2 separate regions of the Homo sapiens genome follow, and region 2 is linked to region 1. A link means that fine-mapping ties the variant in region 1 to the expression of a gene that starts in the linked region. Tissue or cell type: pancreas. Region 1 holds a variant in brackets; the other region holds the start of a gene. All regions are shown on one strand. Distances are between the middles of the regions.

Region 1 (8,111 bases):
ACAATCCAGTGTAATGGCTTTTCCCTCTCCCAGAAAATAAGATGAGATTAAATAAAATTCTCCAATGTCTCTGGACCCCTTCCAAATGACATTCCACACATCTGCAGTAAAGAAGGAGAGCAGATGAATATGTAAGATCAGCACATTCCCTATGAAAAGAACACCTTTGTCAGGACATAGTCTCTATGAGGTCAGGGATTTTTCTAATAATATTCACTCCTATGTCCCTCATGCTTAGAAAAGTATTTGTTGAATGGATATACACAGGCATATATTCATATGCTTGAATGAACTTCTAACACATAAAAGATTGAAGGCCTATCATTGTCCTCAACAAGAGAAATAGAGAACATTGTGTTGGGTGTTTGCCATAGGCCCTTAAGTTTTGTCTGAGTGAAACAATGAAAGAAGAAGACATCTCCATTCTTTGTCCCCCTAACCCCACCAAAAAATGTTTTTTCTTTTCTTTTTTTTTTTTTTTTTTGTTTTTTTTGAGACAGAGTCTCACTGTGACACTCAGGCTGGAGTGCAGTGGTACAATCTTGCCTCAGTGCAACCTCTGCCTTCTGGGTTAAAGCAACCCTCCTGCCTCAGCCTCCTGAGTAGCTGGGGACTGCAAGCATGCACCACCACACCTGGTTAATTTTTATATTTTTAGTAGAGATGGGGTTTTTCCATGTTGGTCAGGCTGGTCCCGAACTCCTGACTTCAAGTGATCTGCCCACCAGAAGATTTTTAAGGTTCATGACTTCTAATTGGATCAGATAAACCCTAAAGGGGTTATTGAATCACAACTTCAGGCAGAAGTACTAGGACGATTTCTACCCCATTGCAATGAAAGAAAACAAAGTACAGTCCCTCCTACAGAGGGAAGATAGTGCCGATTTTGACAGAATATAAAACACAAAGTAAAGGCAAAAAGAAAAAAAATATTTTCTTAACACTTTTGGATAAAACCAGGCTTATCTTTGTTCTCAAGCTATTTCCAGGGAGCTAGAGTGGATGGGCCACTTAGCAATATCCTTATACACACAATCCTTATTAGAAGATTGCTTCATGATGAAATGTCAGGCAACCCATCAAAATGCTATTGATTATGTTATTAAAGAGTACAGATAGAAAATAATAAATCAATTGTGGTTGTTGCTTATTCAGACTTTTAAAGATATGTGAACAACCTGAGACTTCATCTTTAGAGAAGTGGATGAGGTTTAAATGGGGCAAGACTTCTTTTCCAGATAACCAATATATCACTTTTTAGCTGAAAGGGACATAAAAACTCCATTTGGAGGCTGAGGGTATATTTTTCAATGTCTCAAATGAGCTTCTCTTTGAAATATTAATGATTCGTCTCAATGGTGCCCAAGGAAGAAGTATTGATGGTCAGACAACCAAAACTACCTTCAAATTTGATGGTATTTTTGTTACATATGCTACATTCAATGGAAACATTCAAGAGAAACTTTCTAGCATAGACTAAAAGATACAGCAAGACAAACCCTCACCACTTGGTGCTGAGGGACAAATCCAGCAAGTCATGTTGGAGTGTTTGTCTCCCTGCCATTGTCACTGTGAGACCCAGTTATTGGTATGAAGAGGTGTTGGGAAAAGACTATTACTGATTGCTTATGTCAACTAAACAGATAAGCCAAGATGAAAGATCTGTAGTTAATGGTTTTTCTGCTTTTGCTCGACATAAAATCTAAATTGTTCATGTTGACATACTCATAATGAAATGAGTTAACTCTGAGAGTTATTTGGCCACTTTTTGTTCTGTTTTGTGTGTTGAAGCTAGGTGCTAATCTCACAAGCACATTCATTTTCAATTTTGCTAGTCTTTCTTCATAGAACTTCTTCTGATTTTTATGTTTTTATATGTTCATTTTTTATCTCCCACCCTTGAAAGTAAACTCTATTCTTTGTCTAGCATGTATAGCAGTGTCATCTCAGCTCCTACTATTCATAATAGGTCCCCAATAAATAATTGATAAATGACAGGAGGCTTTGCCAGCATTAGTCACCTTCCCTCAGAAGATTTCCATCTCTTCCTAACTTCAATTTTTGAAATAGAAGGCATATGAACACACTGTAATTCTTCCCCTTAAAGAATGAAAATTGGCCAGGAGCGGTGGCTCACGCCTATAATCCCAGTACTTTTGGAGGCTGAGGCAGGCGGATCACGAGGTCAGGAGATCCAGACCATCCTGGCTAACACGGTGAAATCCCGTCTCTACTAAAAATACAAAAAAAATTAGCCAGGCTAGGAGGCGGGCGCCTGTAGTCCCAGCTACTCGGGAGGCTGAGGCAGGAGAGTGGCGTGAACCCGGGAGGCGGAGCTTGCAGTGAGCCGAGATGACGCCACTGCACTCCAGCCTAGGCGACAGAGCAAGACTCCGTCTCAAAAAAAAAAAAAAAAAAAAAAAGAATGAAAATTCACCTCAGACGCCCTTACCAGAGGACTGGCATTTGGAAAAAGAATCTAATACTAATTTTCCTGCTGAAAGAAGACTGCTGATAAAGATGATTATAATAGTCCTGGTTGGTAAACTTATTTTGATGATGCATTAACTATAGCTGGGTTTTCACCTATATGCTTTCAAAACATACACAGAAAGGGATTAACTTGAGTGGCTAAATCAATATGGTTGTTAAAACTAGCAGATTAAGTAGTTATACAGTAAGTACAGATGACAGAGTACAATACAAAAATTGCTTATTACTCATCCTTAAATAAATTAATCATCTATTATGGACAGAGAAAACAAATAACTTCATCCAGGGAAACTCACTGAGAGAACACACTTCCTTAACATAAACAGTGGAAACAGAAATCATGTTTCATGAAGTAGTTTTCAAATATGCAGAGTCAATATGGTCTACAGTAACAAAATGAAGATTATTACTTTTCTTCAGTTGAATTTGCCTTATATAACCAACCAGTGTGTGAGTTGGTGAAAATGCCTGTATTGTCATATGGTTTTATAACATGGGGGTTAGACAGACCTGATTTATGTATTAGTTTCCTATTGCTGCTATAAAAATTTACCACAAACTTATTATTATTTTTTTTTTCCACAGAGTTTCGCTCTGTTGCCAGGCTGGAGTGTAGTGGCGCGATCTTGGCTCACTGCAGCCTCCGCCTCCTAGATTCAAGCAATTCTCCTGCCTCAGTCTCCTGAGTAGCTGGGACTACAGGCGCGCGCCGCCACGCCCGGCTAAT[C/T]TTTTTGGATTTTTAGTAGAGATGGGGTTTCAACATGTTGGACAGGATGGTCTCAATCTCCTGACTTCGCGATCCGTCTGCCTCGGCCTCCAAAGTGTTGGGATTACAGGCGTGAGCCACCGCGCCCGGCTAAACTTACGGTTTTAAACAACATAAGTTTATCATTTTATAGTCCTGGAGGTCTGAAGACTGAAATGGGTGAACAAGGCTAAAATTCAGGTGTCAGGAGGGCTGCTTTTCTACTGGAAGCTCTGGAGGATAATCTGTTTCTTGTCTTTTCTAGCTTCTAGAGGCTACATGCATTCTTTGGATCATGGCACCTTTCTCCCACATTCAAAGCTCATGACTCTAACCTCTGCTTCCACCATCAGATCTGTTCTCTGACTCTAACCCTCCTGCCTCCCTTTTATAAAAACCCTTGTGTTACATGGAGTGCGTTACACTACCCAATTAATCAAGGATAATCTTCCCTCTCAAAATCCTTAGTTTAATTTTATCTCCTAACTCTTTCTTGCCATGTAAAGTGACATATAGGTTCCAGAGATTAGGACATGGACATCTTTAGGGGATTATTGCACTGTTTACCACTGTTTATATGCCTGCTTTGCCAATTATAAGGTGAAATTTGATGTTTCTGACCGTTTTTTATGTCTAGAATGGGAATTATTACAAATCTCAGTGTTGCGAGAATTAAAGGAGACAAGTAGTATAAAGCATTTACTACACTGGCTGGCACACGGTATCAATACATTATAGTTAGTATGCAGGTTTTATTATCCTTGGATTTGGTAAATATGACAGACTGGTTCTTTGATTGACTCTAATTATAGACACATAAACCCTGGAAGTACAAAAGCTTTAATTTTTCATTTGCTTAAATGAAAGCCAATGTCTCATGTTTTCAATTTCTATAGCAAAACAATATGACCTATTCCTTAAAAGGGAAATAATAATGAGATCTCAAGAAGGAAATAGAAAGAAACAATAAACATTTTAGAAAGTTTTGGCTATAGGAATTTTAACCAAAAGCCAATTTTATAACTGAGGGCACACTGACCCAGACACTCTCTGAACAGTGCCCCCGAGCACTCACCAGCTAGAAGCGTTTGCAGGATGGTTTTCAGTTCTGTTTGCTTTACTAGTAATTGGCTCTTTGGGTGGTGAGTGGGGAATACAGATACACACATAGTGGACAAACACACACCCACACATGTAATTTCAAAGAAAAGCAGCATATTAGCAAAGTACTGTGAGCAGTTGTCTTAAATAGGTTATGCGTGTACTCAATAAAGTAAGTTTCTTCCCTTTTACTTACTTATGAAAATTACTTAAAAATGCACTGTACATGTGTGCAAAAAATATGAATATATTCTATCAAGGAGCACTTTTGATTTTTTTTCCTTAAAAGCTATGTAATAATTCATGCATATGTATATTTAAGTAGTTCATCTTTAGCAGTCTGCCCACTTGGGGAATTTATTTTTATCTCTAATTTAATTCCAATTTTTCTTGCAGAGAGTTAAAAGCTAGTTATACTTTGTGTAAAAGACAGTCCAACATTTGAAGATTATTATAAAAGTCATACTAACATTTATATAACAATCCTATAATTTGATATAAATCTGTTAGTTGTGTCTTCATTTACATCTTATTTATGTTTAACTTCATACACTATGAAGATGATATTTGTTACCTTTTGGCTCTTTTATAATTTGGTTCGTTTTGATGTGAGTTTTTTAGGAAAATTAGCAAGTAATAGAAAAAAATCATTTAGCAAGTATATATTGAACATTTATTATATTAATGTCCTGTTATATTGATCTCCTATTATATTCCGGGTCATGGAGTGGAACAAGTGAACCTGAATCCCAACTCTCATGGAATTTACATGTAGGGGACTATAGACAATGGAGAAATCAATAACATGTTGGTATGTTTGTTGTACTATGGCAGTGATATGTACTATGAAGAAAAATAACAAAAATAAAGGGGCATTAGGGAAGAAAAACAATAAGAAGTTGTATTTCAGACTGAGTATGAACAAAGAAGCTCCCAACTGCTGTCAGCTAAGAGATGGCCAAAGTGTTCTCTGGTTAGACATAAATAATTTTGCAGAAAAGTAAAATCAGACCAGACCACCTTTGTGACTGTATTAGAACAAGACAAAACCAAAACCCAATAGTAACCCTATCTGAGCACAGATAAACACAGTAATATTGTGCAAATCGCAAAAATGATCAAACATTCCCTTCATCCAGCTAATATAAATAATAGCTTTTGCTGATTCTTCATCAATTATAGCTTTAGTCTCACACCATTCATCCTAGTTAAAAATTGTTAAGAATTGCCCATTTTCTGACAGCCTCCAATATGGAAGCAAAATCATGCTTCACTGAATCCTCCCTAAAATCACCTAGCACAAACCTGAGCCCTATGACAAATTCCTTCTAAAACTCCCTTATTGTACACTACATGGCTACTCATGGTGTGTTTCTCTCACAGCAATGAGCCAAGAAGCCCAACACTGACTATAGGTGTGTTCCTCATGGTCTTTGGTTGAAAATCATAGACAAGAAAGTCACTTCTAATTTATGTGTATTTTATAGAAAGAGAGTCTTGCCATATTGCCCAGGCTGGTTTCGAACTCAAAATACAAAAATTAGCTGGGCGTGGTGGTGTGCATTTGTAGCCCCAGCTATAATACTTAGGTGGCTGAGGTGGAAGGATTACTTGAGGCCAGGAGGTCGAGGCTGCATTGAGCTGTGATCACACCACTGCACTCTAGAGTGACAGAATGAGACCCTGTCTCAGAAAAAAAAAAAAAAAGTCACTTGTGATTAATTGACAGTTAATAAAACACCTGAATAAAGTTAAAGAAGAACCATTTGGCTATGTGAAGAAAAGGGAAACAGTGAGTGCAAAGATCCTAAGGTAGGATCATTCCTGAGTAGGTTCAAATAAAACCCAGAATACAGAGATGGTTGAATCTGAATAGGTGAATAAAAGAGAGGAGGGAAATAAGGCCAGGTCCAAATTGTGAAGGGTCTTATATGCCATACATCAGACACTGAATATTTGTGTCTCCTCCAAATTCATATTCCCTAATCCCCAATGTGATCATATTTGGAGATGTGGGCCTTTGGAAGTTAGTCAGGGTGAACTGAGGTCATGAGAGCGGGGTCCTGGTCTAATAGGATTAGTGCCTTTATAAGAAGGCACTAATAAGAACAAGGGAGCTTGCTCTTTCTCTCTCTCTCTCTCCACTTGCATGCACCAAGGAAAGGCCATGCGAACACACGGTAAGAAGGTGGCCATCTGCAAGCCAAGAAGACAGCCCTCACCAGATCTCAATCATGCTGGAACCCTGATCTTGGACCTCCAGCCTCCAGAACTATGAGAAAACAAATTTCTGTTATTTAAGACACCAAAATCTAGGGTATTTTGTTATGGCAGTCTGAACAGACTAAGACACATAGTAAAGATACGAATTTTACCTCACTGGAAATGAATTGGAAACTTTTGAAGGATTTCAATAAAGGAGAGTAGGACCTGACTTATGATTTAATAGAATCAGTCTAGCTGCTCTGTTTAGAATATGTTGTAGGAAAGTTGGGAAAAGAAGCATGGGATCCAGCAAGGAATTCAGGCAGTAGATGGTGATGGCTTTTTCAATGTAGCAGGAATGAAAGTGGTGAGACAGGAACATTGAGGATAAAATATCCAACTGAAATACTGTCTTGGATATCAGATTTATTTTGAAAGTAGAGCCAACAGATTTGCTTACCCATTTAATGTAGACCATGAGAGATATAAAAAGATAAGCCAAAAAGGACTTCAAATCCTGAGATAATAGATGAATTCAGTTATCATTTTGCTTAGATACATAAATCATGGGGATGAATAGTTGGGGAGATTATAAGTTAAGATCTCAACTGTGGACAAGTTAAGTTTGAAATGTCTATTCTGTATTCAAGTGGAGATGCCCAGTAGACAAATTTCTGAACTGAAGCTCAAGGGACCAAAACTGTAAATGTAAGTTTAGGAATTTATATTTAATAGATGACATTTACAGTCATGAGCATGGACAACCTAGGAAATGAGAAGACGAAGGTCTGAGCCCTGTGACACTTCAACACAGGCTGGGAAAGAGCTGTCAGTGAGGAAAGAAAAAAAAAATGCAAGTGTTTAACCCTAGATCAAGCCTTGCTCCACATGATAAATGATCACCTAATAATAAGTGTCATATGACAAGCTTGGCCTGTAGGAGTGGTGTTTGTTTTAGCTCTTTCAAAAGTGTCTCATGTGGGTTCCACAAGATGATAGTTGAAATCCTGGGTGTGGCAATGTTTAAAAATTTATTTTTAATCTTACTCCTTCTTCTTTATTCCCTGGACTGAGTAGGGACTAATCCAGCCATTTTCTATGCAAGTGTTTCTCACAATAAGCATGAAAATTTTCTGGGTGCTTATTGAAAAATGCACATTCCTGAGCTCCAACTCAGATCCACTGAATCAGAAACTCTGAGAGTAGCATGCTGGAACTTACATTTATAATAAGTTCCCAAGTGAGTTGCCATGCACATTAATATGGAAAACAATAAGCTATTCTTGTATTCTCACCTTGTCATAAAGAAGGAAAGGAGTTAATTGTAAAGAGTCAAATTTGGGGCATTATAATGGGACAAGGATCTTTTAGAGAGGATAGCTAAACAAATACTATAATCAGATATTGGCATTACCACTCCTGGCCACTCATTACTTTGTAAGTATCTATAGATAGTCTCATTTTGATGAAAATAAGGAATGCATAGTATTTTTTCTAAAGATATCTTGGCACCAAAGTGAAAATATCTTTGCAGGTGTTGTGTCACAACCAGAATTCCCTACTTCCA
Region 2 (8,111 bases), 960 kb before region 1:
CTCTCTCACCCACGTCCCCAGTAAAAGCTACTTAAAAAAAGAACAGAAAGTATCACACTAGAATAGCAAGTGTGTATTTCAATTATGAGATAAGAGTATGTTAAGGGCTGTACACACGGAGAGTCTTTTTAATAAAATATTGTTTCAGCTTGAAGAAGCAATAGAAAGTTACAATTATGTATTCATCTCCAAAACGAAACTGTTTTCTCAAAGTTATGACCTGGAACCTTGGAGTAGAGAAGAGCAGAGTTATATGCAATTACATCACTTCAAGAAAATGAGACAAAGCATCTATAATTCCATCCAGTATCTAGTTCTCTCAAAAAAGGAAAAGAGTTAACAGAGTGATGGTTTCTGGGAAACATTTGGCTCCATACTTTTTCTTAAAATGTGCTTTATTTGCAGAGACAGTAAAGGTCAAGAGTTGGCATATATACAAACTATCACTTAATTAAGTAATATTGGTTGCAGTCAGTGATTGTTGGTTTTGAGATAGAAATAATGTATTATAATCATTGAATCTAAGAGAGGACTAAGCAGAATATGAATCAAACACACTTCTATGTGAGCATGCCACTGCCCTCAGTTCAAGTGGAATCTAATTGGAAATGCCAAAACTTTACTGTTCTATTGCATATTTACATGGTACTAATGCCATGCATTTTATTCTGCTCAAGGTGCCCTCAGGGAGATAAAGAAAGCAGAAACGGTCAGAGAAGCAAATTTGTATTAAGGCACTTAAGGCATCTTGCCACCACTGGGTCTGGGAGGCGCTGCTCAGTCTGCCGACAGCATCTTCTGGAATTACTGGTGTGGTGGAACTCAAAAATTTTCTGCTTCACCTGAGCTTCCCAGTAGAAATTCTTAGGCTGACGTCACAAAGATCACGACTCATTTTTCCTGTTTGTATATTTGCTGCAAAAGAATCGACACTCTCTCCTCTTAAGCTCCTTTACTAGGCTCTAGGTGATGATGAAGTTTTCCTTTAAGTTAACATCCTTATTACTTAAATAGGAGACACTTCATGTTCTACTCCTGAAAGCAGTGGTATTAGTTAAGTTTGGTTGTTGAGATTATGTTATGAAAGTGATGAAATCACTATAATTTATCATTTTAAACATACAAATTAATTTTTGCAACAGAATAACTCTCTAACTGTAATGTGAAAGGAAAATATTCAGAATTCCTTTCTCAGAGGTTTTGTTTTCAAATGGCCTATACTTGAATATTTTAAAAATCTAAGCTTTTATATGAAGCCCATGTAACTCTAGTAACCGTGAATTCCCCACCTACATTGCAATCAATGAATCTATATAAGCAAATGGACTGTCAGCATTGGGTTTCTATCTCAGTTAAAAGTAAAGGATCCTTCTTATTTTAGGAAATTAAAACAAGAATCAGGTATAGAACTTTTAATTACATGCTTAAAAGACTTGTTACATACATGTTACACTATTTTGAATATAACTGGAAAAGTTAATTTTTTCGTAATCATTGCTGGGTCTCTCTGTGTCACTCTTTTCTCTCTTTCTCTCTCTCTCTGATTGACCACAACATTTAATAGTTTATAATAAAATGTTATACACGTGAGAAATAGTAGAATAAATGTAAATTCAACACAATATTCTAATGTATAGATATAAAGTTGTTATCTATCTATCTATCTATCTAAACAGATTTTAACTAGAAAGACTTCCACCCAGTTACGGTTAAGTAGATTAATCTCAAATCAATTTCAAATATGGTTAAATAAATTTATCTCAATTGGGGCTACTATTCTTTATTTAGACATATGTCTATCAATAAATATAAAGGCAAATAACTTTGTTTAAGGATGTATAACAATATGGAAATTCAGCATAAAAGCATATTTCCTCTTTGAAAAATCTTTAATGAATATTGGAACCCTAACTTATTCTAATTCAATTTGATTCCTTTATAAGTTTTTAGCTAAACTGTACTAAACACAATCAGACCCCAGAGGGAAATAACATAGTAAACTTCAGTTAGGTTGGGTTTAGAATTCTATCCACAATTCTCCAGTCAATATCTAATTGTAAGCACACTGAAGAATTTCAACTCTGCAATTTGAAAAAAGAATCCATTAAAACACCAATGATATTAAGTTAGAGTATACTGCAAACTCTTTGACTGCTTTATTTAATAAAATAACAAGATAAAAATGAAGTCAATGGAAATTACTAGTCATAGACACTAAGTTGGTCCCCTCAAGAAAATTAGCAACATTAATAACTAACAACATTGACAAAAGTGCCCTTTAAGTGAAACTTCATAAAATAAAGCCACTTTCCTGTAATTTAAGCTTAAGAGGTAGAGACTGACAAAATACAAGTATTATTCCTTCATGTCTCTTGTCCATCAACACAAATTAAAAACAGCACTTCAATACAAACAATTCAATATGTGCTGAAATATAAAGACATGGATTATATGGTCTAAATTGATGAAAGTTATTCAAAAGCAGTCTCCTTTATAAAACCCAAATGGCATGAATTCCACAATATGAGATTGTGTGTAACTCTCTTACTCTAAAATTCTATTTTCTTTTTAGGAATAACAGATTAATGTAAATGTGAATTTTTCAAAAGAAAACTGATTGAGTAGCAAATATGTCTGAATTTGCCACCACATACTCTATCTGAAAAATGGAAAGAAGCCAGGTCATTTCGTTGCTACCCAGAGAGATGATCCTAGCACACCTGTCACCTGCTTGCCTGTCCTGGATCCAGTCTCCGGGAACCAGTTCAATTCCAGCATCCTAATACACACTGTCTGGTCTCCCTAGTTCAGCTTGCCCTCCCTGATAACGGCCCCTTTGGCAGAGCAGCTTATTCTTAATGCTAACAGTAGGTATCACTTACAGAACACTTGCTGACTGTTCAGTTCCCATCAAAGAAAGCCTTATGTGGCAGATCCTTTGATGATGCTTGTTTTACAGACAAACGTTTGGGGCTTAGGTTAAGAAACTTGAGAGGGGGCAAACTAATAAGTGGCAAAGCCGAGCTTTGAACCTACCACTCTTCTGCTTCAGAATTCATATCCTTAACTCATGCACTCCCATTTAATTATTTATGTTTATTATTTCATTGTTTGGTGAGCGCTTATATTGAAAATTCATTTTTTTTTTGGTGGGGGGCATGCTTTCTGTCACTTTGCAGAAACAAATAAAAGTTGAGCTGAACCCTCAATTAAGTTCTTTCCAGTGCGATGATTCAACACAATATTCTAACCATAAGGATACTCAGAGGAAGGAGTATGCCATCCAGAAGTCTAGTATCTTTGTAAGGCACGATTTTTGCCAGGCACAATTACAGGTGAAGGGCTCATTGAACTAAAGGGAGGAGGGGTCCTATGGTCACATTTACCTCCAAGCCCTTCTCTGCACCCTTTCCCTCCCTTCTTTCCCCTCTCTCCCTCCCACCCTACAAGCTTACCTTGGTTAGGAAAGCATATTCTGAGAAAATCAAAAGGAAAAGGCATGTGTGCGATTCAGGCTGCTATGACACACACACACTTAACTTTGTTGCCTATGGATTCTGCTTTCTAATAACTTGCCCTCAACATGACCCCAGGGAGTGGATTAGAAAGTTTTTTTCCCCATCCCCATTTTTTACCTGTTATTCACACTGTGAGCAGGAGGACCCTTTTCACCATCGTTGTTCGGCTGAACTTGCTTCGCGGTTTGTTCTCGGCTGGGTCAGGAACTCTGGTAGAGGGAAACCAGTGCCCTGTCTCTGCCGGGCTGGGACTCCGCGAGTCACTCACCTGTAGGGGAGGTCCGAGGCCCGCGCGGGCGCAGGGGCGGCGCCTGTCTCCTCCCAGAGCATGGCTCAGCTGGGCGCTTGCAGTGCCCCCGACGCGATCAGCGATCCTGGAGCCCCAGGAGCTGTTAATTATTTCTCCTTTTCGCCACAGCAGGGAAGTGTCAAGAAACCTGAGCCACTCCCTGTGCCTCAGTGCATGTTGGGAGTGTTTACTTTCTTAGGAACAGCTGATAGGTACACTCCTTTGCTCTCTGCCACACTTCTTGAGAAATGAATGGACATTCTAGTTAACGCTTTAACCACGGGATTTGACTGATGTTAATCTCTATTCTCTAGTCCACCCAGACTGTAGGTAATTGGCCTGTGAGAAATGACACCAACCAAGACTGAACGCCATTATTCACGTCTTTCTTTTTAAGATTTTTCTTTTCCAATTTGAGATTTGTTAACTTTCTTTTCCTTGTTATTTTGCTAACACATTTCCCTGCTAGCACTTTTTTTCACCCAGAGCAGCGTTTCGCGCTTCAGGGTGCACCAGGACCACCTATGTATTCTGCTAAACCCAGGTACCATCAACTGTGAGACTCTGATTTAGTAGGCCATGCATACACTTCGGGTATTTATATTTTTTATAAGCTCCACAGAAGAAACTGGTAGACATCAAAGTTTGAAAATGAACATAATGAAACAAAACAGAGGAGATAAATAATAATTTAGTCATTATCTACTGAATTGGATTTGGGGGCTTTGTTTTATCCAATATCTCCAATTTCAAAAGGACACCAAAAAGGCTTAGAAACTGTTAAATGACAGATGCTGTGGAAATATGAAGTACATTTACACACACACACACACACACACACACACAGATTTTTAAGGATCATTGTTATTTTACTGGTTTCCTATGTAAAGCAACTATTCATAATTTTTAAACATAATAGGTTATTTTACAAGTGTAAACCTGAGAGCCCTCAAAAGAAATTCAATCTGATTCCTGCAAAAAGTTCAGCAGGCAGAGTTAATTTCTAGTATCTTTCGTGTTCAAACGCCAGACAAACAGAATGACTCTAGATGTTCAGGTTGCATGTTTGTCATAGCACTTTAAGTAAGATCCTATATGTTCAAAAGGTGAGGCAGGCCAGGTGCAGTGACTCACGCCTGTAATCTCAGCACTTTGGGAGACCAAGGCTGGTGGATCACTTGAGCCCAGGAGTTCAAGACCAGCCTGGACAACATGGCAAAACCCTGTCTCTGCAAAAAAAAAAAAAAAAATTAGCCCGGCATTGTGGGGCATGCCTATAGTCCCAGCTACTCGGGAGGCTGAGGTGGGAGGATCACTTGAGCCTGGGAAGTCGAGGCTGCAGAGAGCCAAGATTGCACCACTGCACTCCAGCCTGATTCAAAAAAAAAAAAGAAAAAATATTAGGCAGTTTATCTATTTAATCTGTGGTGTGCGGAGACCAGGAACTATCAGATTTATCATTATTTGAGCAAATGGTTTTATTGGATCACAATCAAAGATTTTACAATCTTATGTAAGGACAGATGTGACTTAGTATTACTTGCAGATATTAATTCGATCATCATGTTGGCTCCATAACTCTCTGGTATGTGGCTGCTGGTATGGACTGACCTTTGAATGATGACTAGCAGGACCTAGAGTAGTTACAGCTCTCGGTTCCAGGATATCTTGCTCAAATCCATGCTCCACCTCCATTGTCTGTGCTTGAAGTGGGTCATTTGCTTATTGTCAGCATCAGGGCAACATTCTTTTGCATCTTTTACCTGCAAGCATTGGATTTGGGGGCTTTGTTTTTTGCCAATATCTCCAATTTCAAAAGGACTCCAAAAAGGCTTAGAAACTGTTAAATGGCAGATGCTGTGGAAACTTTTACTCTGATGACTGCTTTCCAACTGGTTTTCTAAAGAAAAGTAAAGTTAGAGGCTTAGTGACTTCGTTTTTTAGTGTTTTATCTGTTTGTAAATATGTAATTTTTATTTGATAATATAAAAAGTATATAATTGCACATATGCAATGTGGAAAATCTGAAAAACACAGAAATGTAGAGGACAAAAAGCACCTATAATTCCATCTCTCAAGTATAATCATCATAAACAATTTGTTGAATGTCTTTATTGACTTATTTTCCCTGTGGCTGTTTATCAAAATGCTATTACATTTGGTTTGTTGGTTTATAGCCTGCTTTCATCACATCAAACGTAGTATGAACAATTTACTATAAATCAGTCACTTTTTTTCCTGCAATGTAATTTTAACTAGCTGCTCTGTATTGCACCAAATGAAAATACCGTTACTTATTTAATTATTATGATAAAGTTATACTGTTATAAACAACACTGCAGTGAATGATTACATATGATTCCACACAAGCATGACTACACCTTTTAGATACATTTCAAAAATTGAAGTTACCAGATGTAAGGCAATGTGCATTTTGAAGAATTTCCCTGCTTAAAAAATCTTTGTCAGTTTTATACTCCCAGGGCAGCTAACATGGGTTATTATACTTCTTTTAAACATTTATTAATTTGAAACATAAAAAAATCCATATCTTATTTTAAATATATATATTATCGTACTTGTAAGTTTGGGCTCTTTAGACTTTGCACTTTTGCTTTATTGTTTATTGGACTCTTTGCTCATCTTTTTTCTTATTGATTTATAAATTCTCTTTATATATTAAACATATCAACTCTTCATCATATATGCTGTGACTATATTTTCAAGGTGACTTGTTTACCTTGCAGTCTTGTCTATGGTATTTTTGACATATAAAAGTTTAAAAATGTAAATGGTCGAATCTATTATTTTTCTTTATCAGTTACATCAGTTTTATAAAAGCTTTCCCATCCTTAAAGAATGTAAAAATGCACATATATTGCTTCTTCTAGTTTTTCTAAGATTTAGATATTATTTATTTATTAAATTGAACATTTTAGCCCATCTAGACTTTATTATGTTAATACACCATGAAATTTAGATCTAACTTAATTTTTCTAAGTTATTAGTTTGTTAACTGAGTCATGTTTATTAAATAACTATAGATTATAAAATTTATGAAGGCAAGGACCTTCATAAATTCATAATGTCTTATCCTCTATTTTAACCACTAAGCTTAGCACAGTGACTGGCAGGCCCATGGTTGCTCAGATCAAATGTTTAACTAGCACTCTTGATTTCTTTCTTTCCCTCTTTCCACGCCCAGTAAATGAGCAAGTCCTGATGTTGTATCTCCATGGCTACCACCTTACATCAGGCCAGCATCATCTCTTGCTTGGATACCACAAATGACCTCCGAACTGGGCTTTATGCCTCCCCTCTTATCCTACTACAGTCCATTCTCCACCTGTGGCTAGCGTAATCTTTTATAAGCAATATCCAGACAACAATACCACTTCTGATTTTCTTGGTTTAAAGGCTTTCTAGTGGTTGCACCGCACATCTGGAATAAAATCTAAATCTGAACTGCTTACCATGCCCTACAATGCCCCACATGACTGGCTCATCCCTGCTTCTTCGACCTTTTTGATTTTCTGCTTCCTTGGTACTAACTCTAAACTTGCTACCCTGGTTAATTTTTATTTCTGGAACAGACTAAACTTCTTCCTGTCTCACTGCGTTTGTATTTATTATTGATTCACTCAAGAAAGCTTTGCTCTGGTCATGGGTAGTTTCTTTTCATTACTATGTTTTTTTCCTCAAATATTACCTCCTTAGAAAAGCTTCCTATGACGACTGTATTCGAAGAAGACTTCTGATCTTTCTCTATTATAGCACCTTGTTTTATTGTATTTGTGGCAATTATCATTAGCTAATTATGTTTTATTGTTTGGGGTTACCTCTTTATTTTATGTCTCCTGTCATTAAAATATAAACGCTAAGAGATCAGGAACCTTGACTTGTAGGTTCACTCCTCTATGCTTAGTGTCTAGAACAATGTGTGGTCCCCTGAGGGTCAAGAAACACTGGGTCAAGAAAAAATAGTAACAATAAATAAGCGTTGAGTAAATAAATGTAGATCACACTCTTTCTTGATATGAAATGACACTTTTATCAAATACTGAGGGCATACATATTTTTTGCCTTACACTTCATTTCATATCTGAGGCTGTACTTAAAGAATATGTGCTAGGGAAGGAAAAAAGGAAGCAGAGGCAGTGTAGTTCCAAACAATGAGGGGACTCCCAGTAAAAACCTAGCTGGAAAATTGCCTTAAAGAGGAAGCCAGGCCTTCACAAGGAGGCAATGTGTTAATTACATTTCCGATGTGTAAAGCTTAAAATAAATATATTTTACAACTGGAA

Evidence for each region. PIP is the estimated chance that this variant, and not a neighbour inherited with it, causes the effect.
Region 2: RASSF6 starts here. The variant in region 1 is fine-mapped to the expression of RASSF6 in pancreas (GTEx, PIP 0.98).

Annotation. Positions count from the first base shown.
Region 1 is chr4:74,575,807-74,583,917 of GRCh38, forward strand. The region is part of intron 2 of LOC107986229 (a long non-coding RNA gene); the gene reads right to left. It overlaps LOC124900716 (a long non-coding RNA gene), which reads left to right. Exons shown (of 2, transcript XR_007058141.1): 2 at 3,079-5,231. Among named protein-coding and RNA genes, the nearest start is that of AREG, 130 kb to the left of the region's middle. The variant C/T (reference allele first, on the strand shown) is at 3,221.
Region 2 is chr4:73,616,653-73,624,763 of GRCh38, forward strand. It overlaps RASSF6 (Ras association domain family member 6), which reads right to left and starts at 3,784. Exons shown (of 11, transcript NM_177532.5): 1 at 3,636-3,784. RefSeq lists enhancers at 3,258-3,807, 3,808-4,356.